7 linked regions of the Homo sapiens genome follow. The protein of the gene in region 1 purifies or fractionates together with the protein of each later gene. This does not show direct contact. Each region holds a gene or a part of one and is shown in the gene's direction. Other genes may lie near its edges. The genes, in order: CDKN3, ARK2N, ARHGEF28, HDHD5, UNC45A, ROCK1 and PTPN5.

Region 1 (4,443 bases):
AGAGCAAGACCCTGCCTCAAAAAAAAAAAAAAAGTATTCCTTACCTACCAAAAAAAGACTTAAAGACAGTAATAGATAGTTGACCCTTATAGTATTTATAAAACTTTTCTGCTTTAGACACACCCACCATGCTAGGAAATTTCTATTTGGAGAACATTTAGGTCATAAGCAAAATATATGTAATTTAAATCATTGGTTCAAAGTCAGTCTTGTACATTTTGGAATGTCATATTCATTTAGCATTTTCTATAAAAACAGTTTCCAATTTTTTTCAAAATACTTTTTTTTCTGCAATGAAATCTTAAATGGAATCCAGTACATAAAACAGGTCAATATGTTTGATTGGAGACCTAGAATCTCCCTGCAGCAGTTCCTGAGATACTTTCTTAGCCCTTTCTCAGAAAGTTGGAAAATCACTGGATAATAAAAATTACCAAATGTGTACAAAAGGCAAATAGATGTATAGTACTGTACATCTCAGGGATTAGTTCATGAGAAGGTACTTTGTACTTAAATAGCTACATGTCCTTGGATTTAAGGGACAGGGAGAGGGCTGGAGTTGGGAGCACTTAGATCATCCAGTTATTTATTTTAAACCAAATGCTCAATAGTTAATATTGCCATAAAGAAGTCCTAGTGTATAGAATGCCTATAGTATTCATATCATTATAATGAGAATAGCTAGGTCACAGAAGTTTAATACAGGTAATGTTTTATTTACTGGCGACCTAGTCTATAAAATTAAATACACAAGGATGTGTTACAGTGCAGATATGAGGGAGAATACTAGCACCTCTGACACCATGGCCATGCTGGAGATTTTATATACAATACTCAGAGTCAAGCAAACAGCTAAGTGATGAAGTAGCAGACATGGTTGATTTTGTGAGAAAAAGAAAAAAAGTGCTATCATCCTTAATTGAACATAGATCTATCATACCTTAATTGATAGCACTTTTTTTCTTTTTCTCACAAAATCAACCATATTTGCTACTCAATTTTAAGTGTTTTAAGAGTTATTTTATGCCAGGCATGGTGGCTCATGCCTGTAATCCCAGCACTTTGGGAGGCGGAGGCGGGCAGATCAACTGAGGTCGGGAGTTCAAGACCAGCCTGACAAACATGGTGAAACCCCGTCTCTACTAAAAATACAAAATTAGCTGGGCGTGGTGACACATGCTTGTAATCCCAGCTACTTGAGAGGCTGAGGCAGGAGAATCACTTGAACCTGGGAGGCAGAGGTTGCAGTGAGCTGAGATCGTGCCATTGCACTCCGGCCTGGTGACAGAGCAAGACTCCATCTCAAAAAAAAAAAAAAAAAAAAAGAGGGGGGGTTATTTTAAAGCAGTATTCATTGCAAAAAAAAATTTTTTGCAAGAACAGCAATTGACTTATTTTGAAATTCAGTAAAAGGCATTTTGACTTGTAATATGAGGTTTAATTCTAGACCCCTTTTGATTCAGACATATCAATAGGCACTTCAGATTTATAGATTGTCATTTGGTATTAGTTTGGCTTAAGAAATTTAATTTCATATTCTCCCTCTTGATGGTATTTAAATGTGTGATGTTTTCTATGTGTGTGTGTCTGTGTATCCTGGTCTATTGGCAGAAGAACTAAAGAGCTGTGGTATACAAGACATATTTGTTTTCTGCACCAGAGGGGAACTGTCAAAATATAGAGTCCCAAACCTTCTGGATCTCTACCAGCAATGTGGAATTATCACCCATCATCATCCAATCGCAGATGGAGGGACTCCTGACATAGCCAGCTGCTGTGAAATAATGGAAGAGCTTACAACCTGCCTTAAAAATTACCGAAAAACCTTAATACAGTACGTTCTTTTCTCCATACACTATGTGAGAAATGTCTCAGTCAAAATGATTTCTGGAATTATGGTAGCCCTATTCAGTTATCACCTACTTCATAGTTTGTTGTAAGGATTAAAAGGTAATAATGCACTAGGAAAGCACTGGCACAATGTCTGGTACAGGGTAAGTAGTCAAATACGTGCTGTTATTACTTTTCAAGAGTAGGGACAATAAATGAGTAGATTTGGAAATTGTTAGAACAAGGTTACAAGCTTTTCTTTTTTATTTCTTTCCTTTAGTCTTAGACCTTTAGTTGCAATTTTGGGACCCTCCTTTCCCCTCATCACCATCACTGCCTCACTTATTAGCTTTTCAATTGCTTAGTTGCTTTCAATAGCAAGAAAATCAATTTTTTGGCCAGGTGCAGTGGCTCGCGCCTGTAATCCCAGCATTTTGGGAGACTGTGGTGGGTGGCTCACTTGAGCTCAGGAGTTCAAGACCAGCCTGGGCAACATGGCAAAACCCCATCTCCGCAAAAAGTATACAAAAGAACATGCCAGGCATGGTGGTACGTGCCTGTAGTCCCAGCTACTCAGGAGGATGAGGTGGGGGAACTGCTTGAGCCTGGGAGACAGAGGTTGCAGTGAGCCAAGGTGACAGTACTGCACTCCAGCCTGGGTGACAGGGAGACCCCATCTAGAAAAAAAAAAATAAAGAAAGTCGATTTTTTCAAAATTAGCTACCAAAAAAGTTACCTCTAAGCAATAAGCAATCCTAAAAATATGACTTGAAAATTACATTTGATGATATGACTGCTAACAGATTGAAAGAGGGCCTCTCATTGTGTGTCAGTGGCTATAAAAACACAAGCTGCTGGTGTGAAAGTTTAAAACAAAAGAAGATGGGTTAAGGAAAGGGGACAAAATGAGGAGGAAAGAAAAGCAGCTTGGAGGAAGGCCAGAGAGAGTGGCAATGGGCAGTAGATAGTAGCATGGCAAAGATTCAAAGGGGCGATGTGGATAAAAAACAAGAGATGCTCTGCCGGAAGTGAAACACACAAAGCAACAGAGAGCCAGCCATGGGGAGGAAACTGGACTTTGCCGTGCATAATGTATATTTCATATTCTAATAACCTGCTTAATCCTTTCTCGAATAAGGTAGGGTATTAAATAGTTTACGACCTCAAAAGCCCCAAGTTCCTTAAGGACATTGCTTTGAGCTAGAAGTATAGAAATTATATCAAATAGCCATGGGGTTCTCAGGGCACCTAGTCATAGGACAAGCCCAGCCAACTTCTCCTCTTAAACCTATAGCCCAGGGGCCTCATGCCAACAGTGTCAGTTCTGAAGGCAAACCAACTAGTACGAGGGTCTTTGGGGACACACACCTGTTTGTGGCCAAACTGAACTCTGACATACAGAGAAATATAGTTTGCAGAATATGCAGTAGAGAACTAGAAGCCATTCTACATCCTATTGTTTCCCATCTTCCTCTATGGAAAAAGCATAGTCACTTAACCAGTACTAATTATAAAAGCTAAATTTCAAATAGATCCAGTTGATGATGTGAAAGTTTCTGATACATATAGGTAAAATAGTATTAGATAGTTAAATGTAGCTGGGGAAAAATATTTTCCAACATAGGGCCCTATTTTTCAAACCATTTTGAGATCTTTTTTTTTTTTTTCAAATAAATTTTTGAAAGCAGCCTCTACTGAAAAGTTTCCAGAAATCAAACTAGCTCTGTTTAGTGAAGTGAAGCTTAACAAATTCTACTGTAGCTGGTTCTGGCAACCCAAATGCTCTGATGTTTGTGCAGAGTACAAACAGGATAGACAGTAGATGGGTGACTTTGCATATGCTGAATGTTTCAGTCTCCCATAAAATAAAGCATCTGACAACTGGCATTTTTCATTGTCCTAGAGCTTTCGAAGGTGTCCTACGGTGACTAGTTTATTTTCTATCCATTCTGCCATCTTTGAGGACCCACACTTCTAGACAGCTATAGAGCTTATCCTTCAGCAACAGGATCTGGTAAACCTTTTTCACTGACCTGTTGTCTACCAGTGCTGTCTCACTGGTTCTGCCTGGACATTTGCAGCCCTTTATAAAATTAGTGAACAACACTGCTTGCCTACTGTATTTTGTAGTTTCTTGGGGCTATTGTAACAAAGTACCACAAACCAGGTAGCTGAAAACAACAGAAATTTCTTCTTTCCCATTTCTAGAGGATGTAAGTCCAAAATTAAGATGAGAGCAGAGCCATGCCCTCTGAGACTGAGGAGAGTCCTTCCATGCCTCTTCCTAGCTTCTGGTGGTGGCCATCAATCCATGGCAGGCCTTGGCTTGCAGCTGAATCCCTCCAGTCTGCCTCTGTCATCACACACTTCCTCGGATGTCTGTGTCTTTGCATGGTGTTGTCCTTGTGTAAGGACACTAGTCATCTAGGATGAGGGCCTGCTCTAATTCGTCTTAACTTGAATATACCTGCAAAGACTCAAATTCTGAATAAGGTCCCACTCACAGGTACAGGATAAGGACTTCAGCATGTCTTTTGGGGGGACATAATTCAACCAGTAACACCTACCGTGTACCACACGCCAAGACTACCAAACGAGGCACAGTCCCCACCT
Region 2 (4,443 bases), on another chromosome or scaffold:
GAAAGTGCTGTTCTAATAGGAAAAATGTTGTGTATTTATTACTTCACTGAATATAAATTTACTGTCAACATTAACCCAGAGGGTTGATAGCCTTTTATGCCATTTATGTGATGCAATTCCTATTTGACAATTATATCATTTTATACTGCTAGCTACTTGACTGTTCCTACCAGAAAAACCTATTTTTTTCCCCTTGACCAAAAACAATATATGCAGTAAATAATCTGGTTGTATGGAAAGATTAATCTTTATGTATGACATCATTTCCCCCTGTGGTTAGGGCACTTCGTTTTTATTCCACTGAAGGGAGTTTAGTCAGAGCTTATATTTTCACTTTCTGTGACTTTTTTCTCCTGTATTTAATTAATTATAGCAAAATTCCACTATAGGAAGAAAGCATAGTAGAATTTATTGACTAAGCTTGACCCAAAGAGTAGTCTAGTGTTATGGCCCCAGAAAAGCACAACTTCTTTTTCTTCAGAAGACTTTTATGTCAGAGTGGATTTTTGAATAGATAATGTTTGTATACATCACAAATTCAAGAGATACAAAACTGCATACCACACTGTCTTCTCCTGTTCCCTTATTCACCTGCTTTCCTTCTCAACTGGTATTACTATTTTCTTAAGTATCTTTCCAGAGTCTATGCATCTACAGATAAACTCATGTAAATATAGTTTTGTTATTTATTTACATAAATGCTATAATGTATCTTTTTTCATTAAAATTGCGTGAGAACTGTTTCTTACCTCTCTATATAAAGTGCTTTCTCATTTTTTTAATGGCCACATTGTATGAACATACCATGATGAGCTAACTTTTGTCCTGTTTGTGGTCAATACTAGTCTTTTGTGATTGATTTGAGCATATTTAAGTGGTTTTGACTGCAATACCGGTTACTAATTTAGGTAGTATAAATTAAATCTCAGTTAACACTCAAATTTAAGGAACTTGAAAGATAATCATTAAATTGAATGATGTGCCATATTGTCATTTTTTTTTAACAGGGAAAAACAATCTAGATTTACCTGTTTTATCCACACAACTTATTTCTTGAAGAAACAAGCGTTGTATGGTCATTTTAACAAATTTACTTTTTAGTCTGATGCTGTATTATGTACTTTGAAAATATCCAGTGCTGCCTTCTTTCACAAATTGAGACTTTTGATGCTTGTCCTATATAGCTGACATTAATTCCATCTGAGTATATTTTCTCAGATATTTTAGCTTTAAGAAGAATTTTTTTTTTTTTTTTTTTTTTTTTTTTGGAGACTAAGTCTCACTCTGTCGCCCAGGCTGGAGTGCAGTGGCGGGACCTCGGCTCACTGCAAGCTCCACCTCCCGGGTTCAAGTGATTCTCCTGCTTCAGCCTCCTAAGTAGCTGAGATTACAGGTGCCTGCCACCACGCCTGGCTAATTTTTGTATTTTTAGTAGAGATGGGCTTTGACCATCTCGGCCAGGCTGGTCTTGAACTCCTGATCTCGTGATCCACCTGCCTCGGCCTCCCAAAGTGCTGGGAATACAAACGTGAGCCACCGTGCCCAGCCTTAAGAAGAATCATTATTCCAGAATATACAATTTGAATCTCCATAATAGAATTAACTCTCATTTTTATTCAGTTAGAAAATCTTTGTCCCCCCCACTGCTAAATTTGACTGGCTTAAAAAAAAGAACTTGGGTTTATTCCTCATACCTGGGGGTATTTTGTATCTGTGAATATTTTATTTCGTGTTTGTATTGACAGCATGCTTTATTTATAACGGTCTCCGTTGGTTTAACTGTTACTCCCTCTGTTGGCTTTCAGAGGTGTTACATTTTTTTGTAATGGTGTCAGAAAAAATATTTATGCTGATTTTCACTTAGCCTCCAACATTAGTATTATAATTGATACAAATATGCTTGTGAAGTAGGCTACACACAAGATTGTTTTATTTATTTTTTATTTATTTTATTTATTTTTTTGAGATGGAGTCTTGCTCTGTCACCCAGGCTGGAACGCAGTGGCGTGATCTTGGCTCACTGCAACCTCCGCCTCCCAGGTTCAAGCAGTTCTTTTGCCTCAGCCTCCCGAGTAGCTGGGACTACAGGCGCTCGCCACCATGCCTGGCCAATTTTTGTATTTTTAGTAGAGACGGGGTTTCACCATGTTGGCCAGACTGGTCTCGAACTTCCAACCTCAGGTGATCCACTTGCCTCCACCTCCTAAAGTGCTGGGATAACAGGTGTGAGCCACCACTCCTGGCCTAGGATTGTTTTAAATTAACAGATGTTTCAGTGGCCATGAATGTTCTGGTTTCCATGAATGTGTTAAGGAAACTTAATCAGAATGCCTGTTTTATCAACAGCTGAGAACAGGGCTATGAAAAACAACAGGCATATAGAATATTTATGTTTGTATTAAGCAAAAAGTGGGCTTGGCATGTTAGATCTGTTTTAAAGGATTTTGCAAATATTTCCTAGTTTTTGTCTGCTATAGATTGAACTATCTAGGTAACTTGATGGAGTGAGATGATGGAGATGCCATATTGCACCTAGCATACCGTATAGAATAATGGTTATGTGTGTCTGTGACCTATGGACATGATAGTTGCTTTCTGTAATGTAACACATACAGGGCAAGGTATTTACTTGTTTTCCATATTTAGCATCCTCTTTAAAAACCACCAGATTTTCAATAGGTTCTTGGAAACTGCGACTTTAAATGGAACAAGATACTGCTGGTCTTTGAATGATGTCCTTTAGTTATAAGGTTAATGAGAAAAATTGGTTTTGTTAAATGTCATTTCACTTAAAGTCTCAGTTTCCAAGAACCTGTTGACAATGTTAAGTAAGGACTTAACTGTATATAGGTCATAAGCTTTTGAGGTTAAATATTATGTCCTGTACCTGTATGGTTAATTGGAGTTGTATCACTCACAGTGGTGGTAGAGTGTTAGGTTCTAAATTTAGCATACAAAGTGTACAATGGGTGTAGAGTATTTTCTCTTAAATCCCTTTATTCATTCATAGAATATACTAGGCTTTCTGGGTTCTGTATTTAGTGACCATTGTGGATAAAACATCTATTTAAACACTAGACTCAAATTCAGCATGATGAGGTATGTGGGAGCTAGGTAGGATTGAGGAAGCATCAAATTCTGGCTTTTCATCTTAATGCTTCACTAGAGCAACTCCTATTGAGGGGACTGCAGACAAGTTGGATGCATAGTATTTGGTTGCTCATTTGCCAAATGCATGTAGTTGGAGTGTGTTTGTGTTTTTGTTTTTTTAAACATAAATGTAGGGGCCAGGCACGGTGGCTTACTCCTGTAATCCCAGCAGTTTGGGAGGCCACAGTGGGTGGATCACTTGAGCTCAGGAGTTCGAGACCAGCCTGGGCAACATGGTGAAATCCTGTCTCTACAAAAAATACAAAAATTAGCCGGGTGTGGTGGTGTGCGCCTGTAGTCCCAGCCATTTGGAAGGCTGAGGCAAGAGAATTGCTTGAGCCAGGGCAACGGAGGTTGCAGTGAACTGAGATTGCACCATTGCACTCCAGCCTGGGTGGCAGAGTAAGACCCTGTCTCAAAAACAAACAAACAAACAAACAAAAACATTTGATGTTTCTCTATTGTAACTCCCCTCCTCCCACCTCCTTTCTTTTTGGATTTGAATGTAAAAGTAGTCATTCCAGGTAATGCATTTCTAGACTAGTTTTAAAGCATTCTTTTTCATTTATATCAAAGTCAATGAATGCATATTAATTATATCAGAGTTTTGAAGATTTCTTTGTAGAACACTTTAAATAAAATTGTAAACTTGAAAATGTTCATTACATGTTGGCCTTTCAAGTTAGAGGATTAATATTATGGCATTTTTAGTAGCTCAGTATGCTTAGATTTTGACCGTATTAAGTCCTTTGAATTTGACTGTTGATCAAACAAGCAGATAATAATATATATATATTTTAAAGGCCTGTGTAATAGTAAGTTTTGCCCCACCCACTTAGAAAGGTAGGCATGTTGTGTTGACTAAATAATCTGGCATTCTGTTTATTGACTTTGTGTGTTTTTGTACAGGTTGCTTTCCTGTTGCATCTTTGATATCATTTCCTAGACTCTACTCCATGATTTAACTTGAAATTCTGAAATGAAGATGGAGGAGGCAGTGGGAAAAGTTGAAGAACTCATTGAGTCCGAAGCCCCACCAAAAGCATCTGAACAAGAGACAGCCAAGGAGGAAGATGGATCTGTAGAACTGGAATCTCAAGTTCAGAAAGATGGTGTAGCGGATTCTACAGTTATTTCTTCAATGCCCTGCTTGTTGATGGAACTGAGAAGGGACTCTTCTGAGTCTCAGTTAGCATCCACAGAGAGTGACAAGCCTACAACTGGCCGAGTTTATGAGAGTGACTCCTCTAATCACTGCATGCTTTCCCCTTCCTCTAGTGGTCACCTGGCTGA
Region 3 (4,443 bases), on another chromosome or scaffold:
GTGAAATCTTCTGTACTGCTATTAAACACCCAAAATGAAACTGTTAACATCATTTGTCATTGTAAAAAAAAAAAAAAGTGTTGTCTCTCCATAAGTACCTCATAATAACACAATTTGCTAATCCCATTAAAGCATTTGCCAAGTATAAATGAAAGGCAGCTCGTGTTACCAGCTCCACATGAATCCGAATGATTTAAATCTATGTCTATTATAAATTGTTTTCTGGGGGATATGAGGTAGGGAATGAGAAGAACTTGAAACCTCTCTACCGAAAAACAGATGGCATGCAATAGAATAAACAAATGGCTGGCCACATGGATGTGAAATAAATCACCCACAGCAAAATGTTTCAGAAACATAAAACAAGCAGTAGTATAGAAGTCTTCAGAACTGGATACAGATTTGTTTCTATGCTTAATATATATTCTTAGTTTGTCAGTTGGAGGATAATTTTTCAGCAACAAAAAGGTTTGAAGGTATTTGGCTTCTCCCAATTCAAGAGTAATAATTCTGATACTGCTTATAAGTTGATTTATTACTGATCCAAAAGATGTTGATTCTTAATAGTGGCTAATTCTTTACATTACTTAAGTCACCGTGGTAACATTCTTCTTTCTTGTCAGCATATAGGAGAGAATGAAATAGTTTTTTAAAGTATTATTTCAGATATTCTTTAGGTAAAGAAAAAATATGATGGAATCGTTCAGATTAAATAAAAGGTCAAGCCAAATTTTGAAAAATGTAACTTCTTTAATATATTATCTTACAACTTTACTACAATAGAGAGCAGATTGCAGAATTCTTTTTCTAAGCACATGTTGCTTTGCTGTGTTGGTTCATTAATCTGCTATTTACAGTGCTTCATGTGGTTTTGTCAGCATGGTTTTACATACTGGCTTTGGTATAATTCCGAAACTCAGTTTGAGTTAAACCACATTCAGCTTTTGTTTAAAAGAAGCATGTCTCTTACTTTTTGTGTATCTCCCATCTTTTTCTATTGACTTGTGCTTCAAAGTAAAACTTTTTAAACCATTTGGCAGCATACTTGCAGTAGATAGAAAATGTACTAAGGAAATAAACAGTGATTATATACAAAACCAGTCTATCCACATGTAAGGAATTAGAGCCAAAGGAAATGCTGAGAAATGTACTTACGCTTAAGAAATTGTATGTCCAGAGTAGGCCAAGGACGCTCAGGACATTGACAGGAGAGAAGAAAGTCAACTGTGGCTTAAATCTCTCAGGAACATCCTGGTTTATATAAGTAGGGATTACATCAGAAATGCTGTGTGTACTGTTCACCACTGGAGTTTTGCAGCTAGTCAAAAAACCTTATTTATGTTTACTTCATGATAAGCAATTTCTACAGGGGAGAAAAGAAAGTCAGAGAATAGGCGGTGATAAGAAAGTGGATTGAGAATAGGATATATACACTTAAAAGAGTGGTCAAGGCTAGATAAAATTATTCAAACCCTCCAGAGCTTTCACAGCTTTTATCATTGACAGTAACACAACATCAGCCACTGGTGATGGCCTTAGCTAGGCTCCGTGGGCGCTTGCCACACATGATCTTGGGGGACAGTGACTGCGGGGGGCCGGACAGGAAGAAGCAGGCTCCAGGGTGTGCTGGGTGGTAACAGCTGATGTGCCAGAACCAAGGACCAGGCAGTGTTGTTGTCCCCTCTTCTGTGTTTTGCTGCTGAATCTGGGTGAGTGGCCATCAGTGACCACTACTGAGGATCTCCATAGTTCACTGTAATCTGGCTAACATAATTTGCCTATAATGTTGTGGGCTGGTATTTTAGCTAAATGTGTACTTAACCATGATTTCATTCAGGCTTCAGTCACTCTTTCATTGTTAGGCCATAACGTCTGCCGTTCCAGGTAACATCTTAAAGAATGGTTTGCCCTTTTGCCTAGTCTGGTACTGTGGATAGATGATCAGCTCAGATCAGTGAAAATGTGAATTTCTGGAACAGTAAGGCTGATGGGAAAAATTGTATATAAAAACAATTCTCCAATGTGTTTAGATACCACCTAGATAGGAATTTCTGTTGGTTTTTTCAGTACAGCCTCAGCAGACATTTTTGTGCTCTAATTGTGATTGGTTTCTGAATTGCTCTACCCCCACCCCTGCCACCAGTAATTATATGACACATCAAATTTCAGGCACTGTGCTAAGGTTTTACATGGGGAAACTCATTTAATACTCACAACAACCCACTGAGATGGTTCTGTCCTTTGAGAGGGGCAGCTGGGATACAGAAAGGTCAAGTAACTTGTCCAGATCACATAGCTAGTAAATTGAACCTGGGAATTGAACCTGGGAAGATTGGCTTTAGAGCCCATGCTGTCAATCATTACACTATACATTCTGAATTGCTTTTTTTTTTTTTTTTTTTTTTTGAGAAGGAGTCTCTCTTTGTCGCCCAGGCTGGAGTGCAGTGGTAATATCTTGGCTCACTGCAACCTCCACCTCCCGAGTTCAGGTGATTCTCCTGCCTCAGCCTCCTGAGTAGCTGGGATTACAGGTGCCCGCCATCACACCTGGCTGATTTTTGTATTTTCAGTAGAGACGGAGTTTCGCCAAGTTGTCCAGGCTGGTCTCGAACTCCTGACCTCAAGTAATCCACTGGCCTTGGCCTCCCAAAGTGTTGGGATTACAGGCTTAAGGCACCACACCCGGGCTAAATTATTAATTTCTAGAAAGCTGTTTTGAGCTGTACTTTTTTTGAGATTGAGAGTCTCACTCTGTCGCCCAGGTTGGAGTTCAGTGGCGTGATTTTCAATCACTGCAACCTCCACCTCCTGGGCTCCATCCACCTCCTGGACTCACTGCAACCTCCCACTTCAGCCTCCTGAGTAGATGGGACTACAGACTTGCACTATGCCCAGCTAATTTTTGGCTTTTTTGTAGAGACGGGGTTTCCCCATATTGCCCAGGCGGGTCTTGAACTCCTGGACTGAAGCGATTGGCTGTTTCAGCCTCCCAAAGTGCTGGGATTATAGGCATGAGCCACAGTGCCCAGCCATGAGTTGTACTTTTTAAAGAAGTTGGTTTAGATATAGAACTAATCTAATCCTTTTGTAATGCCTAGTGGGATGTTCATGATTAAGGACCAGGTTTTTGTTTTTATTGGTTTTTTTTTCTCCCCTCCTTCCCTTTTTAATAGTAACATTTGGAAAATATTTCTAAATGTTTTGGATTACTGTGGCCAACTCTTGCATGGGGCCTGAACATTTTCAGTATCATAAATACTCTTTAGCTTTACTTTTTTCTCATAAGGGATATTTTCTTAAAAATATTTTGTTTCTCCAATGTTGCCTAATAATAAACCCATGTTATCTGTAAATATTTTTTAAGATAGAACTTTAAAGAACTTTACTTTCCAGTTTTGGAAGTTATTTCATGAACAAAATTCTTGGATGTTCAAACATTAAATCCAAATTGATATTTTATTTGTAGTGGAAGAGATGGTTGGCTTAAGAACTTTTTCTGTACTCCTCTATGGGACACCAGCCAAGACTACAGAATATTTGAATTTCCTTAAACAATAGTCTCTGTGGGACAATTGCTATGTAATCGGCCCTATGAGATGCTCAACAGCATTACTCTGAAAGGCAAAAACAAAGAAACAACAATAAAAAAACCCAACATTTTATTCTTGTGGCTTTTTTTCTCCTAGCTTTAACATTTTAGAACTATATATTGAATGCATCTATATGTTATTTGCCTTTTTCATTAACAGAGGAAACATCTTATGGTATAAAAATCTGAAATCCTAATCTCCCTTTTCAGTTGTATTTTTCTGTATGCCTCAATATTTGCAGGTTTCCCAAAAGTTCTCTTCAGTTCAGTTAAAGCATTATGATTTTGTTATGCATAGGCTAAAATGTAAGTCAAGCCAAATTTTATGTTAATAATATAGATACTGGGAAAAAAGTAACTTGATTAAGTTTGAGTTCTCTTTCCTTTTACTACATATTAGAATTTGGTGCCAAGGAAACTATTTTCAAAATTCAAAGCATTGTATTTAGAATACCTCATCTTGATAATTTTTTTTTAAAAGACAGCTGTGTTAAACTTTGACAAGTTTTTTATGTAAGGGAAGAAAATAGAAAATTTCCAAATGAAAACCTATGCCATACTTAGTATTTAAATAAGTCTTAAGAAGTGAGAGGATGATAATTTCTCATGTTTTAAAATATTTCATAATTCAGAAATTGACACCTTACTTGTGTAATCTATATGGAAAGAAGCTTTGCCCAAAGAACTTTAGGCAATTTTCCTGGAAATTGAAACTGGTATTAGACACCATAAACTTCTATGATGTGAGTGTATTTGAAGAGGGGGAATGTATTTGTTGACTAGGGCTGCCATAACAAAGTACCACAGGCTAGGGGGCTTAGACAACAGAAATTTATTTCTTCAGTTCTGGAGGC
Region 4 (3,572 bases), on another chromosome or scaffold:
AATGCAGGCTGATGTGTGTTTATAGGTGTGACAGGCGTGTTTTACCGGTGACTCAGAAATTAGGGGCAGCATTGCCGTTGGTCAAGTGATTTTCCAAAATAGGTAACAGTTCTTGGTAGAGTTTTGAAAAGGCAAAGTACAGTCTTCTCTTGACTTACACGATAGTTGTATTTTTGGAAAAATTGATGTTTATTGAAGCTGTACAAAAATGCTTTGTGATTGTATGTAAAATAGAATCGTTCAAGTAATTCTGAAAAGGTTGTTCACCTGTGTGGATACCAGGATATCAGGTGGGACATTCAAATGTTATGAGGACATGGGAAAGTTTTTTCTTTTTCTTCTTGTTGTTTTGTAGAGACGGGCTCTCACTATGTTGCCCAGGCTGGTCTCAAACTCCTGAGCTCAAGCAATCCTACCACCTTGGCCTCCCAAAGTGCTGGAATTACAGACACAAGCCACCGCACGCAGCCATGGGATGGTTTTTTTAAAAATTAATTTTAGTGTGGGATAGTTTTTGATTGCACAGGATTGTCCTGAGTATGTAGCGTCCCTGGCCCCCTCCCACAACCTTCACTTGCTAGGTTCTAGTCATTGTGACAACTAAAATTGCCTCTGATTTGTAAAGCACCTCAGCAGGGGCGGTGCTGCCCCATGGAGAATCACTGGTCTGGTGCAGTTCACCGGCCCTGTACCTTAGTGTCAGCAGTGTTCTTTGCCTAGTGCTTACTGTGTGTCTAGTCCTGGGCTGTTTACCGATGATGTAGCTCATTTTTATCCTCACAATAGCTAAGTGCTGTTGCTGTTATGTAGTTGCAGTTGAGGAAACTGAGGCTTAGAGAAGAGAAGTTACTTGGCCACAGTCATACAGGAGAATCGGTGGAGTCCAGGTTGGGTTTCAAGTCTCTATCACTCCACACCCCCTGTCCTGGCTGTTAGGTTCTGCCAGTCCCTGGGGCTCAGAGAGAAGCGACTGAGGGAACAGGAGCCCTTGCTAAGTCATGTGAGGGAGAATGTGGTGGCAGAGTCCCAGCCAGCAAGGAGAAGTAGCCCTGAGACATGCTGCTTTTGTTTTGTAACCTCTTCTGTGAAGCACTGGTGGACTGAAGTCAGAATGGGAGCCCTCAGGAATCTCCTTCCTGGGCCCTGGGCCTTGTGCACCCAGGGTGGATGGGTAAGGGGCTCTACTGGGCTTGTTGGGGAGCTGTGCCCCTGCCCAGCTGGGTGCACCATGGGTGGAGGGCTTGTGGATGGGTAGCCCTAGCTGGCATCCTGAGGGCCTGCCGCCTGCCATCTGCCCTGCAGCCCTCACCTGCGCCTCTGTTCTTTAAAGGGGTGCTCCTCCTAGGGGAGCCGGTCCGCTGGGAGACCAGCCTGCAGCTGATCATGGATGTCCTCCTCAGCAATGGGAGCCCTGGGGCTGGCCTGGCAACACCCCCCTACCCCCACCTCCCCGTCCTAGCCAGCAACATGGATCTCCTGTGGATGGCTGAAGCCAAGATGCCCAGGTGAGGACACAAAGCTCCCAGCCTTGGCCTGGTGGTCTATTCCTGGCTGCTGCCTGGGCAGTCCTGCAGGCAGTTCCCATCCGTCCTGACACCCCAGGTGCCGGGACCTCACTTAGGTAGGCCCTGTTGTTGCTGCAGTAACCTGGCCTTTGGAAGGGCTTTCAAGGACCACTCCACATATTAGTTACTAAACCTAAACTACAGATTATGGAGTCTGAGGATGTATTGAGAGGATGTTTCACACGTGACCCCTGCCCCCTGTAATCTTTACAGAACATGCTCTTGGTGTCTGGTGGATCCCAAACCGTGGGCACTTTTTGTACCGTATCTGTGCACATTATTCAGTTGCTCTTCCTTCCTTGGCTCCATCCTGTAGCATTGGTTCTTTGACTTTCTGGTTTCCTTTTACCCTTCAGACATAAGGCAGGAGGAAGCAAGGATTTGTCGTTTTTTGTTTGTTTTGTTTTTTTTGCGGGGACAGTGTCTCACTCTCTCATCCAGGCTGGAGTGCAGTGGTGCAGTCATAGCTCACTGCAGCCTTGAACTCCTGGCCTCAAGTGACCCCCGTGCCTCAGCCTCCAAAAGTGCCGGGATTACAGGCGTGCTCCATCATGCCGGCCAAGGATTGTTCTGATAGTCGTATAGACCAGAGAACTGAGACCCAGCAGATAAGTGGCTTTCTCAGGGGCATGCAGGTGCCTATACTCCCTGCTCAGCTGTGTTGGTGTCATGTGTCCTGTCTTATTCTGGGGCTAGCACAGATAGAGGCAGCCCTTTTTTGGCCTCAGGGTGCTTACTTGAAGGCCAGCTGACAGCTGCTGTGTACTGTTCGGTTGCTGTTATCTGCATGGCCAGTCTCTTGAGTCTCAGCCTGCTGTTGACCCCCAGTCGACAGTGCTCGTCAGCAGAGGGTGGGCACGGCCCAGTACTGCCTCAGGGCCCGTCTCAGTAGTCCCAGAGAGACGGGGTATGGTATGCTCTTGTCACTTTTAAAGTGTATGTCTGTGGCTCGAGGCTTGGCATTGTCTCTGAAGTATTATTCCTAGAGGCGGGTATGCTGACACTAGATCAGTGGGCTTGGTTGGTTATGTCTCTGTGAACTGAAAAGCAAGGGGCAGATTTCAATTTACAAACCAGATTTTAGATGAACTTTTCTAATTAAAAGTAGAATTATTTACATAAATGACACTGAAAGATGTGGTGGCTCATGCTTGTAATCCCAACACTTCGGGAGGCCGAGGTGGGTGGATCACCTGAGGTCAGTTCAAGATCAGCCTGGCCAACATGGCAAAACCCCGTCTCTACTAAAAATATAAAAATTAGCCGGGCATGGTGGCAGGTGCCTGTAATCCCAGCTACTCGGAGGCTGAGGCAGGAGAATCACTTGAACCCAGGGGGTGGAGGTTGCAGTGAGCTGAGATTGTACCCAAGCGCCAGCCATCATATCAGCATTCCAGGTGTCAAGAAGGAGTTGGGGAGGGCAGAGAGGGCAGAGAAGAATACCGTCCCCAGTTTGTTTGTTTTTTTTTTTTAGATGGAGTCTTGCTCTTTTGCCCAGGCTGGAATGCAGTGGTGCAATCTTGGCCCGCTGCAACCTCCGCCTCCCGGGTTCAAGTGATTCTCCTGCCTCAGCCCCCCAAGTAGCTGGGACTACAGGCATGTGCCACCACACCCAGCTAATTTTTGCATTTTTGGTAGAGACAGGCTTTCACCATGTTGGCCAGACTGGTCTTGAACTCCTGACCTCAGGTGATCCACCTGCCTTGGCCTCCCAAAGTGCTAAGATTACAGGCATGAGCCACTGCGCCTGGCCGCCTGTCCCCAATTTTAAGGATGCTTATTGAAAATTTAGCCCAGCATTTCTGCTTTCCTTGACTGTAGCTTAGTCACATGGCCACGCCTCGCTGGCAGGGAGGCAAGCGAAGGTCTTTTTCACACCTAGTGGCAATATGGTCAGCTGAAAATGGACACCAGCAAAGAAGGGGAGAAGCGCAACCGTAGTCTGCCTCAGCTCTACAGCAGGATTTAAGCTCTGGAGTCAGACTGAGTTGTAATCCTAGCTCTGCC
Region 5 (4,443 bases), on another chromosome or scaffold:
CGAACTTGGCTCACTGCAACCTCTGCCTCCCAGGTTCAAGTGAGTCTCCTGCCTCAGTCCCCCAGGTAGCTGGGACTACAGGGGCCTGCCACCACGCCCGGCTAATTTTTTGTATTTTTAGTAGAGATGCGGTTTCACTGTGTTGGCCAGGATGGTCTGGAGCTCCTGACCTTGTGATCTGCCTGCCTCGGCCTCCCAAAGTGCTGGGATTACATGTGTGAGCCACTGCACCCAGCCGAAAATATTTTATTTTTTAAATTTATTTTTATTTTTATTTATTTATGTATTTTGAGACGGGGTCTCACTCTGTCACCCATGCTGGAGTACAACCTCTTCCTCCCGGGCTCAAGCAGTCCTCCCACTTCAGCCTCCCAAGTAGCTGGGACAAATGCATGTCACCACGCTCGCCTAATTTTTATATTTTTTGTAGAGACAGGGTTTTACTGTGTTGCCCAGGTGGCTGGTCTTGAACTCCTAGGCTCAAGGGATCTACTCACCTCAGCCTCCCAACTGGCTGGGATAACAGGCGTGAGCCATGGCACTGGGCCAAATATGCATTTTTGTTTCTTTATTTTTTCAGGAAAATATTTTAAAAGATATACATCAAAATGATAACACGGTGACCCCTGGGGAAAGGAATGGGATTGAGAGGGCTTTCCAAAGGAGACTGCATCACCTGTTCATATTTTTTTAATAAAGAGAAATTGTGTAAAATACGTATATTTTTAAATTAGGAGAAAAGAATCTAAAGACCATTATGAGCTACAACCAAGCTCAAATTCGCCAGATAATTTGACGTTAAAATGCTGACACAGTGGAAGCAGATAACATGATGGCAGACACCTCACTGAAATGTTGAAGCCTGGGAAAGCAAATAGGTTTCCTCTCTCAATGCCAACTCTGATTGGCAGTGGCTGCCCAGAGTCCTATGTTGAGAAGAATTAGGAAGCAGATTGCCTGAGCCAAGCAGGGGAACGTGCCATGACTGGTTAGTCATGGCTGCCATGGATGCAAGAGAGGAAGGCGGGTGGTCCACATGCTAGGCTTGTGCCACCATCTATGCCCAGGACTCTGGGGGGTGGGGGAGTAGGCCTAGGATGATCTTCCCCATTCAGATTATTTATTTATTTATTTATTTGTTTGTTTTGAGACAGTCTTATCCTGTCACCCAGGCTGGAGTGCAGTGGATCTCTGCTGACTGCAACCTCCACCTCCCAGATTCAAGCGATTCTCCTGCTTCAGCCTCCCGAGTAGCTGGGATTACAGGCACCCGCCACCACACCTGGCTAATTTTTATATTTTTAGTAGAGACGGGGTTTCACCATGTTGGCCAGGCTGGTCTCAAACTCCTGACCTCAGGTGATCTGCCCACCTCGGCCTCCCAAAGTGTTGGGATTACAGGCGTGAGCCACCGTGCCTGGCTTCAGATTTTATTTATTTATTTTTTTGAGACAGAGTTTCACAGTTATTGCCCAGGTTAGAGTGCAGTGGCGTGATCTCGGCTCACTGCAACTTCCGCATCTTGGGTTCAAGTGATTCTCCTGCCTCAGCCTCCCGAGTAGCTGGGATTACCGGCATCTGCCACCACGCCCGGCTAATTTTTTGTATTTTTAGTAGAGATGGGGTTTCACCTTGTTGGCCAGGCTAGTCTTGAACTCCTGACCTCAGGTGATCCACCTGCCTTGGCCTCCTAAAGTTTTGGGATTACAGGCGGGAGCCACTGCGCCCAGCTCAGATTATTTTTAAAACAGTGAAAAGAGAATTCTGGAGCTAAAGGAAGTGTTAGCAACTACCTCACGATCTGCCAGCTCCCTGGCAGGAGGTATAAATGCTGAGTTCAGTGCCATGGGAAGCCCATTCACGCTGCCACAATGTAGATGGCACCACTGGGAGTGGGTTGCCTCGTAGCTGACAGGATACCTCCCCTCCGAAAAGGCACTCCAGCATCGGCGCAGCCCCTGCTGCCCAAGCAGGAAATAGCTCAGAAAGAAAAACAGGTGCGGGAAATTTAGGAGGCACTGCCAGGCAAGTCTCTTCCTGCCCAGGGTAGCTAGGTGCTAGCCCTGAGCCTGGACATCTTTACTGTGCCTCCCAGAGTGAGGAGCTGGAGACAAATGAATAGGGAGTGTGATGTCTCTGGCCAAGAGCCGTGATTTGTTCCATGCTTTGTTGGTTTGTCTAGGTGCGATACATGTCCTCGACGGATGCCAAAGTGGAACAGATGTTTCAGATACTGTTGGACCCAGAAGAGAAGGGCACTGAGAAAAAGCAAAAGGTATAGGCCCTGGGCTGAGTCAGTGAGTGAGCTCCCACTAGAGCCACCCATCCATAGGCCCCCGAAGCCACTGCTGCCTTGCTCTGCCGCTCCTCCAATCGTGCAGCTGGGCTCACGGGGCCTGGATGGGAGCTCTGAGGGTCTGGGGCTTTAGCGTGAACCAAGGAAAGAGAACCAGTGTTCACAGAGTACCTTGTTGGCCACGCCCTGTGCCAGGAACTGGGTGTACAGAGGTAACTGAGGCACTGTCCCAGCCCCTCAGGCTCTGCTGGGGACTCATTTGCTCTAACCATCAATCCCGAGAGAAGGCTCTTCCCTCTATTTACAGAGGAAGCTAAACTTCAAAGAGGTTATTTTTTGGCCGTGGTCACTCAACTGTGAAGTGGAAGCAGAGAGGTCCAGGGCTCGGGGCCCCTGCTCACCAGTGCTGCATCCTATGCCGTGTGCAGTGTCAACATTATAATGTGCTTCCTTTGACGCAGGCTTCTCAGAACCTGGTGGTGCTGGCCAGGGAGGATGCTGGAGCGGAGAAGATCTTCCGGAGTAATGGGGTTCAGCTCTTGCAACGTTTACTGGACATGGGAGAGACTGACCTCATGCTGGCGGCTCTGCGTACGCTGGTTGGCATTTGCTCTGAGCATCAGTCACGGGTAGGTGGAGTGGAGAGGCTGGTTACAGCTTCAGTCCCTTTGTCTGTCTGTCCATCCATTCCTCCATCCACCCATCTGTCCATCCGCCCATCTGCCCGTCCATCCATCCATCCACTCTTCCACCCTCTACCCCTTACCTTATTCTAAAAAGAACTTAGGTAGGTTATGGTGCCTCACACCTGTAATCCCAGCACTTTGGGGGGCTGAGGCAGGTGGATCACTTGAGGTCAGGAGTTCAAGACCAGCCTGGCCAACAAGGCGAAACCCTGTCTCTACTAAAAATAAAAAAATTAGCCGGGCATGGTAGTGCACGCCTGTAATCCCAGCTACTCAGGAGGCTGAGGCACGAGACTTGCTTGAACCCAGGAGGTGGAGGTTGTGGTGAGCTGAGATCGCGCCACTGCACTCCAGCCTGGGTGACAGAGCGAGACTATCTCAGAAACAAAACAAAACAAAACAACAAAAAAAGAAAAGGCAGAGTACAAGGAGATACATGTAACAAGAGAGAAAAAATAAAAATGGCGTGAAAAAGACCAACATAAATTAGGATGAAGTGGGGTAGAAAGAGCAAAAACAGCCTTGGGGTACCCCAAGCACTTGCTTTGTAGGGGGCTTACAAGTGTGAGCCCCAGCTTTCCTGCAGCCAACTCACAAAAACACATTGGTCACTGACTCCTTCAATGTCCATATGGCACAAGCAAGCTCATGGCCCAGAATGTGCCTGGCCACCACAGCATCTACCATCGAGACAGTGACCGGACACGTAGGGCTTGATCCCGACATGATTCTCAGCATGGATGGTGGTGGCCCAGCATGGACAGTGCAGCAATAACAGTCCTGCTCCTGGGCCAGTGTGGTGAAGTCCATGCCCCCAGCTCTTACCTGAGCTGGCTTGCTCCAGGGGAGAGGGGACCAAAGACTAGGCCCTTGGTTGCTTTTAGAGGAGCCCACAATTCCTAGATAGGGGTGAAACTGTGAAATAGTCAATGAAATCTCTTTAGGCTAAGCTTGGGCTGCATTCTGGGTCTCCCAAGGCTAAGACTGTTAAAAGCATGTGCATTCTGTTCCCTCCTGCCTTCCGGTCCATTCCAGTTCACAGTCTTGGCCAAGGACACTTAGCTGCTAAGTGGAAGCAGTCAGGATTTGGGCTCAGTGGACCAAGCAGGCCTTCTAGGGTTCTCCAGCTTAGAAACAGGGTGGAGAGGGCCCGGCGCGGTGGCTCATGCCTGTAATCCCAGCACTTTGGAAGGCCGAGGCGGGCAGATCACGAGGTCAGGAGATTGAGACAATCCTGGCTAACACGGTGAAACCCCGTCTCTACTAAAAATACAAAAAATTAGCCGGGTGCGGTGGCGGGCGCCTGTAATCCCAGTTACTCAGGAGGCTGAGGCAGGGAAATGGCGTGAACCTGGGAGGTGGAGCTTGCAGTGAGCCCAGATCGCGCTACTGCACTCCAGCCTGGGCGACAGAGCAAGACTCCGTCTCAAAAAAAAAAAAAAAAAAGAAAAAAGAAAGAAA
Region 6 (4,443 bases), on another chromosome or scaffold:
ATGGCCTGTATTTATTTTCATTTTAGTAAACTGTTTCACGTTAGACCTGTAACCCAAGGAGATGTGTATAGAGCTGAAACTGAAGAAATTCCTAAAATATTCCAGGTAAAAATCTGAAGTTATAATTTTAAAGAATCTAAGTCCTAAGCGTTTTTGTGAAGTAAATGTAAAATATACCAATGCTTAAGATTTTTAAAATCTTTTCCTTTCACCATTCCTGAATGTAGATACTATATGCAAATGAAGGTGAATGTAGAAAAGATGTAGAGATGGAACCAGTACAACAAGCTGAAAAAACTAATTTCCAAAATCACAAAGGCCATGAGTTTATTCCTACACTCTACCACTTTCCTGCCAATTGTGATGCCTGTGCCAAACCTCTCTGGCATGTTTTTAAGCCACCCCCTGCCCTAGAGTGTCGAAGATGCCATGTTAAGTGCCACAGAGATCACTTAGATAAGAAAGAGGACTTAATTTGTCCATGTAAAGGTAAGGCATGGTAATTATTGTTACAACTTATAACAAATTTAATTTTAAGTCTCAATGAACTAACTTATGTGTAGTGATTTCTATACCAAGTTGAAAAGAGATTATAGAAAGTATTATTTTGACACTGGTGGGGCAATATGCAGCTATTTACAGATTTAGCTTTTAAAAATGTTTTTATTTATTTTTATTGATTGACTGATTGATTGAGATGGATTCTCACTCTGTCTCGCCCAGGCTGGAGTGCAGTGGCGTGATCTCAGCTCACTGCAGCCTCTGCCTCCCAGGTTCAAGTGATTCTCCTATCTCAGCCTCCTGAGTAGCTGGGACTATAGGCGTGTGCCACCACACCCGGCTAATTTTGTATTTTTAGTAGAGATGGAGTTTCACCATGTTGTCCAGGCTGGTTTCGAACTCCTGACATCAGGTGATCCACCCACCTCGGCCTCCCAAAGTGCTGGGATTACAGGTGTGAGCCATTGCACGCCCGGCCAACAGTGTTTTTAAAGAGAATCACCCCCTTGTAAACAAACAAAAACAAACAAACATGCTGCTAAGAAATTATTCCAAGTTGGAGAGAAGAGCAACAGGTGAGTTCCACTCTATTCCTCCCTTGAGTTTTTCCTCTTCTTTTTGTCTGGCATTCACTGCCTGGATCAGCATGCATGCTGTATCACAGAATATCTTCTAGTTTTACAGAGGTAGCTTGAGGGAAAGAATACAGACCATAGCTATTTTCAGATAAGAAGCTTATGTTCTTTAAATACATTTATTTGTTTTACATTTTGTTATATTTCTGATTTTACTTTATTAGTTTGACTAATTTTTTTTTTTAATTTCAGCCTTATTTAACTTAAGGAGAATGAGATATTGTTCATGCTTAATTAAGCATATTAAAACTTTTAAAACCTTAAGAACTTGAAAAACTATGCATTTGATAGGTTGGATTTTAAAAAACTATATGGCTTTAATTATGCTTTTTTTTTCCTCCTTAACATAGTAAGTTATGATGTAACATCAGCAAGAGATATGCTGCTGTTAGCATGTTCTCAGGATGAACAAAAAAAATGGGTAACTCATTTAGTAAAGAAAATCCCTAAGAATCCACCATCTGGTTTTGTTCGTGCTTCCCCTCGAACGCTTTCTACAAGATCCACTGCAAATCAGTCTTTCCGGAAAGTGGTCAAAAATACATCTGGAAAAACTAGGTAAGGATTTGAAATGCTAACGTTTTTAACAATGTGAAAATGATTGGATAACAGCTATTAAAATCAGAAATCTAATTGTGCTTTTCACCACAGAGGGCATCATTTTTAGGTATTTGTATGTGAATTGCAGTGACTTTATAAATTAGTTTAACTTATTCTTGTTAGAGTTTAATAATAATAATACATGCAATATTATATTTATTTAGTTCTGTGTCTAATTTTATTGTCATAAGTTGCTGTACATGGCATAGTTTTAGCCCTTAATGCTTTAACCAACTTAATTTTTTTAATGCAGAAATTCATATAAAACTTTTCATCATCTTTTCTGTTTTTTAACTGTGTTGGCATAGTTTTTCTACAAAAACCAAAATTGTTTTTCCCTTTTTTGTTAACTTCCCATACTATCCCAACATACAAAATTATTTGGTATTATCAGTGACTATGTTTTTTTAATTATTATACTTTAAGTTCTGGGATATATGTGCAGAACATGCAGGTTTGTTACATGGGTATACACGTGCCATGGTGGTTTGCTGCACCCATCAACCCATCATCTACATTAGGTATTTCTCCTAATGCTATCCCTGCCCTAGCCCCCCATCCCTCGACAGGCCCTGGTGCGTGACGTTCCCCTCCCTGTGTCCATGTTTTCTCATTGTTCAACTCCCACTTACGAGTGAGAACCTGTGGTGTTTGGTTTTCTATTCCTGTGTTAGTTTGCTGAGAATGATGGTTTCCAGCTTCATCCATGTCCCTTCAAAGGATGTGAACTCATGACCCCCTTTTTTTTTTTGTTTTTTGAGACAGAGTCTCACTCTGTCACCCAGGCTGGAGTGCAGTGGTGGCGCTATCTCAGCTCACTGCAACCTCCACCTCCCAAGTTCAAGCAATTCTCCAGCCTCAGCCTCCCAAGTAGCGGGGATTACAGACGCATGCCACGCCTGGCTAATTTTTGTATTTTTAGTAGAGAGAGGGTTTCATCATGTTGGCCAGGCTGATCTCAAACTCCTGACCTCAAATGATCTGCATGCCCCAGCCTCCCAAAGTGCTGGGATTACAGGCGTGAGCCACCATGCCTGGCTGTTTAACTATTTTTGATGGACTTTTTTCCAAAAATATGTTTTATGCCATGATAAACAATTATAAGGCATAACCATTCATTCATTCATTCATTCATTCATTCATTCATTCATTTTGAGACAGAGTCTCGCTCTGTCACCCAGGCCAGAGTGCAGTGGCGCAATCTCAGCTCACTGCAACCTCTGCCTCCCAGGTTCAAGCTATTCTCCCACCTCAGCCTCCTGAGTAGCTGGAATTACAGGCACATGCCACCACGGCCTGCTAATTTTTGTATTTTTAGTAGAGATGGAGTTTAACATGTTGGCCAGGCTGGTCTTGAACTCCTGACCTCAGGTGATGCACCTTCCTGGGCCTCCCAAAGTGCTGCGATTACAGGCATGAGCCACCGCACCAGGCAGTTAACTCTTTCTTGGAGAGAAATAATGAAATCTCATCTCATTAAGTTCTCATTTTACACATTAGTAAATAAGGCTCAGAGAAATTAAGCAGTTTGCTCAATCACACAGCCAATGGATTGGAAACCATTTCTGTCCAATTCTAAAGCCTATGTTGTCCAATTCCAAAGCCTCTATTCTACCACATACCACCTTCCCTAGAGTGTACTCCCTAGATTAATAGGGCCACTCGAATTAGAAGCTGAGACCTAACACTGATTTGCCTCGCTGCCAATGTCACCTACATCTTCCAAGCAGGCTTAAAGCCATCTTGAATTCATCCCTTTTGTTCATGCCCTATTGTCAGTAACCAGGCCTAATTCTTTGAAATGACTTATATCCTTTCCTTTCTCAGCCACCATACTATGCCAGGTATTATCACCTTACTGCTAACTTAATTCTGTAGAATGCTATGTCAGCCTTCTCCTGAGCATAGGTTGTAAACTGGATCTAAAATGATTTGAAATGAGATTATAGCTGAGTAAGAAAATGTGTAGAAACAAAGAGGAGAGAATACTAAGTATATTTTTCCTATTCCTTGTTTTCCAAATTTTGTGTAATTGTTAATTATTTTATGTAAAGATAATGTATATTTACCTTTCCTCCTAATGTTTGTTTCTTGTATTTTTAAACTGAGTGCATTTCTTAAATTAGTTTTTTCCCCCTCCCTCAACAGTTAACCATGTGACTGAGTGCCCTGTGGAATCGTGTGGGATGCTACCTGATAAACCAGGCTTCTTTAACCATGCAGAGCAGACAGGCTGTTTCTTTGACACAAATATCACAGGCTTCAGGGTTAAGATTGCTGTTTTTCTGTCCTTGCTTTGGCACAACACACTGAGGGTTTTTTTTATTGCGGGTTTGCCTACAGGTAGATTAGATTAATTATTACTATGTAATGCAAGTACAGTTGGGGGAAAGCTTAGGTAGATATATTTTTTTTAAAAGGTGCTGCCTTTTTGGATTTATAAGAAAATGCCTGTCAGTCGTGATAGAACAGAGTTTTCCTCATATGAGTAAGAGGAAGGGACTTTCACTTTCAAGTGGAACAGCCATCACTATCAAGATCAGCTCATGGAAGGAGTAAAGAAAATATCTCAAAATGAGACAAACTGAAGTTTTGTTTTTTTTTTAATGACTTAAGTTTTTGTGCTCTTGCAAGACTATACAAAACTATTTTAAGAAAGCAGTGATATCACTTGAACTTCAGTGCCCTCACTGTAGAATTTAAAAGC
Region 7 (4,443 bases), on another chromosome or scaffold:
CCTCAAGGCTGGGATAAGGGGAAGGCTGGAATTCTGAGCTACCGCACCAGCATCTGAGACCTCACACCCTGCCTCCCTAACCTAAGAATCCAGAACACAGGGCCTCCCCGACCCCTGAGCTCCCAGCCGTACAGGGTTCTCCTGAGAACTCCTGTCTGTGGAGGCCTTTCTAGGAGACTACTCTTTTGATGTACATATTTGTGAGGTCCTCTCTGGAAAGGGCTTTCTCTTGGTTCCCTTCAGTCAGCTTTTCTCCAAGGAGAGTCCTGAGGCCTCCCCGGGCACGCAGCACCGGGGCCCTGCTCTCAGCTGCCCGGTCTGGACCTTAGAGGTTCAGGAGCCTCCATGCAGGGCCAGGTTGAGGCTGCAGGTGAGCTCTGCTGGGGGAACACGGGGGAAGGGGGCCGGCTCCATACTCAGCCTGCTCCCCTGTGCCCCAGCTTGCCTGTGGGGTGCTCTGGTTCAGCGGTTATGGCCACATCTGGTCACAGAACGCCACAAACCTCGTCTCCTCTTTGCTGACGCTCCTGAAACAGCTGGAACCCACGGTAAGTAAGCTTTGGGGAGTCCTAGGGTAGCAGGGATCTGTTGGGGGCCTCTAGTCCCACCCTCCCCAACCTCCAGATTGGGCTTCTCTGAGTTCAGAAGATACTTCCAAGCCCCTGAAGTTCTTCTGCCTGCTCCCCATCCCAGACCTGGGACGTGATTTTCAGAATCTTGGTTTTGTCATCATTGCAAGAGCTGAGAACTCTGCCCCCACCACCACCCTGACCTGTTTATCTGATGTTCCCCAGGCCTGGCTTGACTCTGGGACGTGGGGAGTCCCCAGTCTGCTGCTGGTCTTTCTGTCCGTGGGCCTGGTCCTCGTTACCACCCTGGTAAGGCGCCTCCTGACCCCAACCTCAAGGCTGTCCTCCTCTGACCTTGAGGCCTGGATTTCTACCAGCTCCCATCTGACTTATAGGCTGGACATTCTGGGTGGGGCAAGGAGGGATACCTATCTCTTTGCACAAGTGTGCCAGCCTGGGGCAAGAGCCTCCTTCTTTCCGAAAATTGGTTTGCAGTGATCTGGGCTAAGGAAAGGGGATGAGACAGGGAGAAGACTGGTGTAGGAACTCCCAAGCCCCACTGAGAAGGCCTGAAGCCACAAGAAACAGAGAGCTGGGAGAGGGAGGGGCAGGGAAGGAGAGTGGGCATGGAGCCTCCCATCGAGGCCAGGGGCAGTGCCTTGTGGACAACTCCCAGGAGAGCAGAGCTGCTCTAGACACACTGAGGGAGTGGGGGGGCGTCAATCCCATGGGCACTCCAGGAACACGGGGGGCAGCCAGCGTGGTCCGAAATCTGTGATGCTGTACACCCCAACCAGGTGTGGCACCTCCTGAGGACACCCCCAGAGCCACCCACCCCACTGCCCCCTGAGGACAGGCGCCAGTCAGTGAGCCGCCAGCCCTCCTTCACCTACTCAGAGTGGATGGAGGAGAAGATCGAGGATGACTTCCTGGACCTCGACCCGGTGCCCGAGACTCCTGTGTTTGATTGTGTGATGGACATCAAGCCTGAGGCTGACCCCACCTCACTCACCGTCAAGTCCATGGGTCTGCAGGAGAGGTGGGAGGGGTGGAGGAGGGGTGGGCTCCACGGGCCCTTGAGCTCTTAGCTCCTGATCAGAAGAGTGGATGCCTGACTCTGACTCCTGGTGCCCAGGGCAGAGCTGGCCTTATAGCTTAGCCAGTGTAGACATGTGCTATCCAGGTCATTCATAGAGATCAAAGTGCCCCAAGATGAATGCTGAGAAATACTGTTACTGCACACGCACACATAGGTGTACACATGTTCACACACACTCTCCCATGCTCAAGTAAGTTTGGGTGGTTTTCTTTGCTGCAGGACTTGTCAGGGCCTTTAACATGCTTATGTTCATTGTAAATCAGCAAGGGGGCAGTATGTGGCATTTCCCAAAGTCACTTGACCACGGAACTCTATTTTTTTGTTTTACTTTTATTTTGGATTGAGGGGGTGCATGTGCAGTGTTGTTACCTGAGCATATTGCATAATGCCGAGGTTTGGGGTACAAATGATCCCATCACCCAGGTACTGAGCGTAGTGCCCAGCAGTTAGTTTTTCATCCCTTGCCCGCCTCTCTCCCTCCCTCCTCTAGTAGTCCCCAGTTTCTATTGTTGCCATCTTTATGTACCTGGGTACCCAATTAGAACCTGTTTTTATAGGGTAGCTCATAGTGTTCCACAGAGCACACTTTGAGAAGTGTAGACACCCTCGTTTCAGAGTCTAGGTGGGTGAGCCAGATCACACCAAATTTGAGTTACCCATGTGATGTCACAGAAAGAACACTGGGTGTGGAGTCAGGAAACCTAGCTTTTTATTTCAGCTCTGCCACCCCCTTACTGGGAGAGCCTGGACAACTCTTGGCCCTTCATGGGGACTCAGTTTCTCTTTCTATGTAATGAAGCCCCATCCTGTCCTGTGTCTGAGACTCTGAGTATAGTAGAGTTTGCCCATTGTAGACATCCTTGCGGCCACCGTGCTGCTCCTGGGACTCCCTCCTTCCTGACAGCGGGGGTCCTGGCCTCTCCTGGACAATATGTCCTTGACTCACCAGCAGCCTCATCCCAGGGCTGTTGGGCCCGGGACTGCAGTGGGGAGGGTCTGGAGCCATCCTCTCGGGCCCAAGCCCCGCTTCTGTGCTTCAGGCAGGTGTCCCCTCTCTGAGCTTCCTGGGGACCACAGGGTAGAACTTCCTCCAACGGTGATGGAGGAGAGTCCAGGGTAAGGCCATGTTGGGGTAGCTTTGGATGGAACTTTTAGAACTGGAGCCCCAAATCCCCACTAAGTTAACATCTCCACTGCAGGAGGCAGGAGATAGGGAGTCAGGCCAATGCCTCAGGGCTGAGATTCACGCTTCTTTGTCAGGGGGTCTTGTCACACTCCCACTCCTCTTCCTCAACCCCACCCTGTTCCCAGCTGATCTCTCCCTCCCTCATTTTCCCAGCCCTGGAGACCCCAGCTCATGCCCGTCCCTCTGCCCCTGAGGCTCACACTCCCTTTCCTGGTCCTTCCAGGAGGGGTTCCAATGTCTCCCTGACCCTGGACATGTGCACTCCGGGCTGCAACGAGGAGGGCTTTGGCTATCTCATGTCCCCACGTGAGGAGTCCGCCCGCGAGTACCTGCTCAGCGCCTCCCGTGTCCTCCAAGCAGAAGAGCTTCATGAAAAGGCCCTGGACCCTTTCCTGCTGCAGGCGGAATTCTTTGTGAGTTCCCTTGAGCCGGTCGCCCCACTGTGTGCAGACCCATGTCAATCATCCACCTGCCCAGGTGGTGGAGCGTGGTGCCTGGAACTCAGCATCTGCAGTAGATTAGTATCACTTTATTATCAGCTCTCCCACCATCTTGGGCAAGCTGCTTTCCCTCTGAGCTTCAGTTTCCTCATCTGGAAAATGGGGATGAAAATAATAGAATTGTTGCAAAGATTAAAGAGACTTATAACATGTGCAGAGCACCCAGCCAGGTGATGGAGGTACAGTGACAATGCTAAGTCTTTATTGCCCAGTGCTGTGCTCTGAAAGCCACAGAGAACCTTCACTTCTAACTCTTCTGTTTTCCCACTTTCCTCCTGCCGAGCATTGTTCTTCTGCCTTTGAAATCTCTCTAGTGGCCTCCCCTCGTTACCACCCCTGGGGCCCTAGCTTAGGTCCTAATCACCTCCACCCTGGCTTCTGCAGCAGCCTCCAGCTGCCTCCTATTGGACTTTGAGGGGCTCAATAAATGGCACCCCTGTTTACCTGCCTGAGTGCTCAGCCAGTTAAGAGCTAAGGCATAGGAGATTACAATATCACCTTTGTTGTCAATAAAATACAGGTTGGAAATGTGGCTTAGCAGGGTACAGCAAGAGTGAGCCTCCCGATACTGAGACCCAGAATTACATGCACTTTCCACCCTCCACAGGGGTGCCGGCACATCTCGGACCTTGCCGCATGGGGGCACCCCTATAATTCTTTCCTGGCAGGAGGGCCCTGAGAGGAGGAGGAAGGAAGGGGCTGAGGCTCCAAAGCTCCATTCCTCAACCAAATTCACCAAACAGGTAACTCCTCACTTCTGTGAGCAGGAAAAGGCAAGAGGCCAAGAGTATCTGGGGTGAGTTCCTCCTGGTAGAAGCCACAGGGGTACAGAAGCAGGTGCCTCCTCCCTCATAGCTCCCTTCCTTTGGCCTCCGCCCTGGGCCTGTCTGGACCGGGTAGCTCTCCCCTGTGAGAAGACCTCCATCATCATCTGATCTGCTGCTCCAAGTTCTCCAGAACTTGGTACCACCTGCATACACCATCAGCACCCCTTACCTCGTGTGGCCCCAGCCTCCTTTTCCAGCCTTATGCCCCATGCCCCACCCCTGCAGGGACTGTCCACTTCAAACTGGGCCAGTCTCGTCCGTG

Evidence for each region.
Region 2: the proteins of CDKN3 (region 1) and ARK2N purify together in Homo sapiens (affinity purification with mass spectrometry; one large-scale study listed by BioGRID and IntAct). This does not show direct contact.
Region 3: the proteins of CDKN3 (region 1) and ARHGEF28 purify together in Homo sapiens (affinity purification with mass spectrometry, with the first as the bait; one large-scale study listed by BioGRID). This does not show direct contact.
Region 4: the proteins of CDKN3 (region 1) and HDHD5 purify together in Homo sapiens (affinity purification with mass spectrometry, with the first as the bait; one large-scale study listed by BioGRID). This does not show direct contact.
Region 5: the proteins of CDKN3 (region 1) and UNC45A purify together in Homo sapiens (affinity purification with mass spectrometry, with the first as the bait; one large-scale study listed by BioGRID). This does not show direct contact.
Region 6: the proteins of CDKN3 (region 1) and ROCK1 purify together in Homo sapiens (affinity purification with western blotting, with the first as the bait; one study listed by BioGRID). This does not show direct contact.
Region 7: the proteins of CDKN3 (region 1) and PTPN5 purify together in Homo sapiens (affinity purification with mass spectrometry; one large-scale study listed by BioGRID and IntAct). This does not show direct contact.

What each region holds. Positions count from the first base shown.
Region 1 is NC_000014.9:54,409,873-54,414,315, forward strand, and holds part of CDKN3 (cyclin-dependent kinase inhibitor 3), read left to right. Parts: intron 1-1,611; coding exon 1,612-1,834; intron 1,835-4,443. UniProt on the Homo sapiens protein: May play a role in cell cycle regulation. Dual specificity CC phosphatase active toward substrates containing either phosphotyrosine or phosphoserine residues. Dephosphorylates CDK2 at 'Thr-160' in a cyclin-dependent manner.
Region 2 is NC_000018.10:46,211,752-46,216,194, forward strand, and holds part of ARK2N (protein ARK2N), read left to right. Parts: intron 1-4,059; 5' UTR 4,060-4,129; coding exon 4,130-4,443. UniProt on the Homo sapiens protein: AMPK substrate important for exercise capacity and skeletal muscle function.
Region 3 is NC_000005.10:73,912,009-73,916,451, forward strand, and holds part of ARHGEF28 (rho guanine nucleotide exchange factor 28), read left to right. Parts: intron 1-4,443. UniProt on the Homo sapiens protein: Functions as a RHOA-specific guanine nucleotide exchange factor regulating signaling pathways downstream of integrins and growth factor receptors. Functions in axonal branching, synapse formation and dendritic morphogenesis.
Region 4 is NC_000022.11:17,138,992-17,142,563, reverse strand, and holds part of HDHD5 (haloacid dehalogenase-like hydrolase domain-containing 5 isoform 2 precursor), read left to right. Parts: intron 1-355; coding exon of another isoform or gene 356-495; exon of another isoform or gene 496-1,167; coding exon of another isoform or gene 1,168-1,171; intron 1,172-1,330; coding exon 1,331-1,505; intron 1,506-3,572.
Region 5 is NC_000015.10:90,937,549-90,941,991, forward strand, and holds part of UNC45A (protein unc-45 homolog A), read left to right. Parts: intron 1-2,182; coding exon 2,183-2,275; intron 2,276-2,757; coding exon 2,758-2,925; intron 2,926-4,443.
Region 6 is NC_000018.10:20,950,829-20,955,271, reverse strand, and holds part of ROCK1 (rho-associated protein kinase 1), read left to right. Parts: intron 1-26; coding exon 27-105; intron 106-227; coding exon 228-489; intron 490-1,486; coding exon 1,487-1,694; intron 1,695-3,884; coding exon 3,885-3,888; 3' UTR 3,889-4,443. UniProt on the Homo sapiens protein: Protein kinase which is a key regulator of the actin cytoskeleton and cell polarity.
Region 7 is NC_000011.10:18,739,427-18,743,869, reverse strand, and holds part of PTPN5 (tyrosine-protein phosphatase non-receptor type 5), read left to right. Parts: intron 1-440; coding exon 441-548; intron 549-794; coding exon 795-878; intron 879-1,366; coding exon 1,367-1,608; intron 1,609-1,982; exon of another isoform or gene 1,983-3,077; coding exon 3,078-3,267; exon of another isoform or gene 3,268-3,446; intron 3,447-4,443. UniProt on the Homo sapiens protein: May regulate the activity of several effector molecules involved in synaptic plasticity and neuronal cell survival, including MAPKs, Src family kinases and NMDA receptors.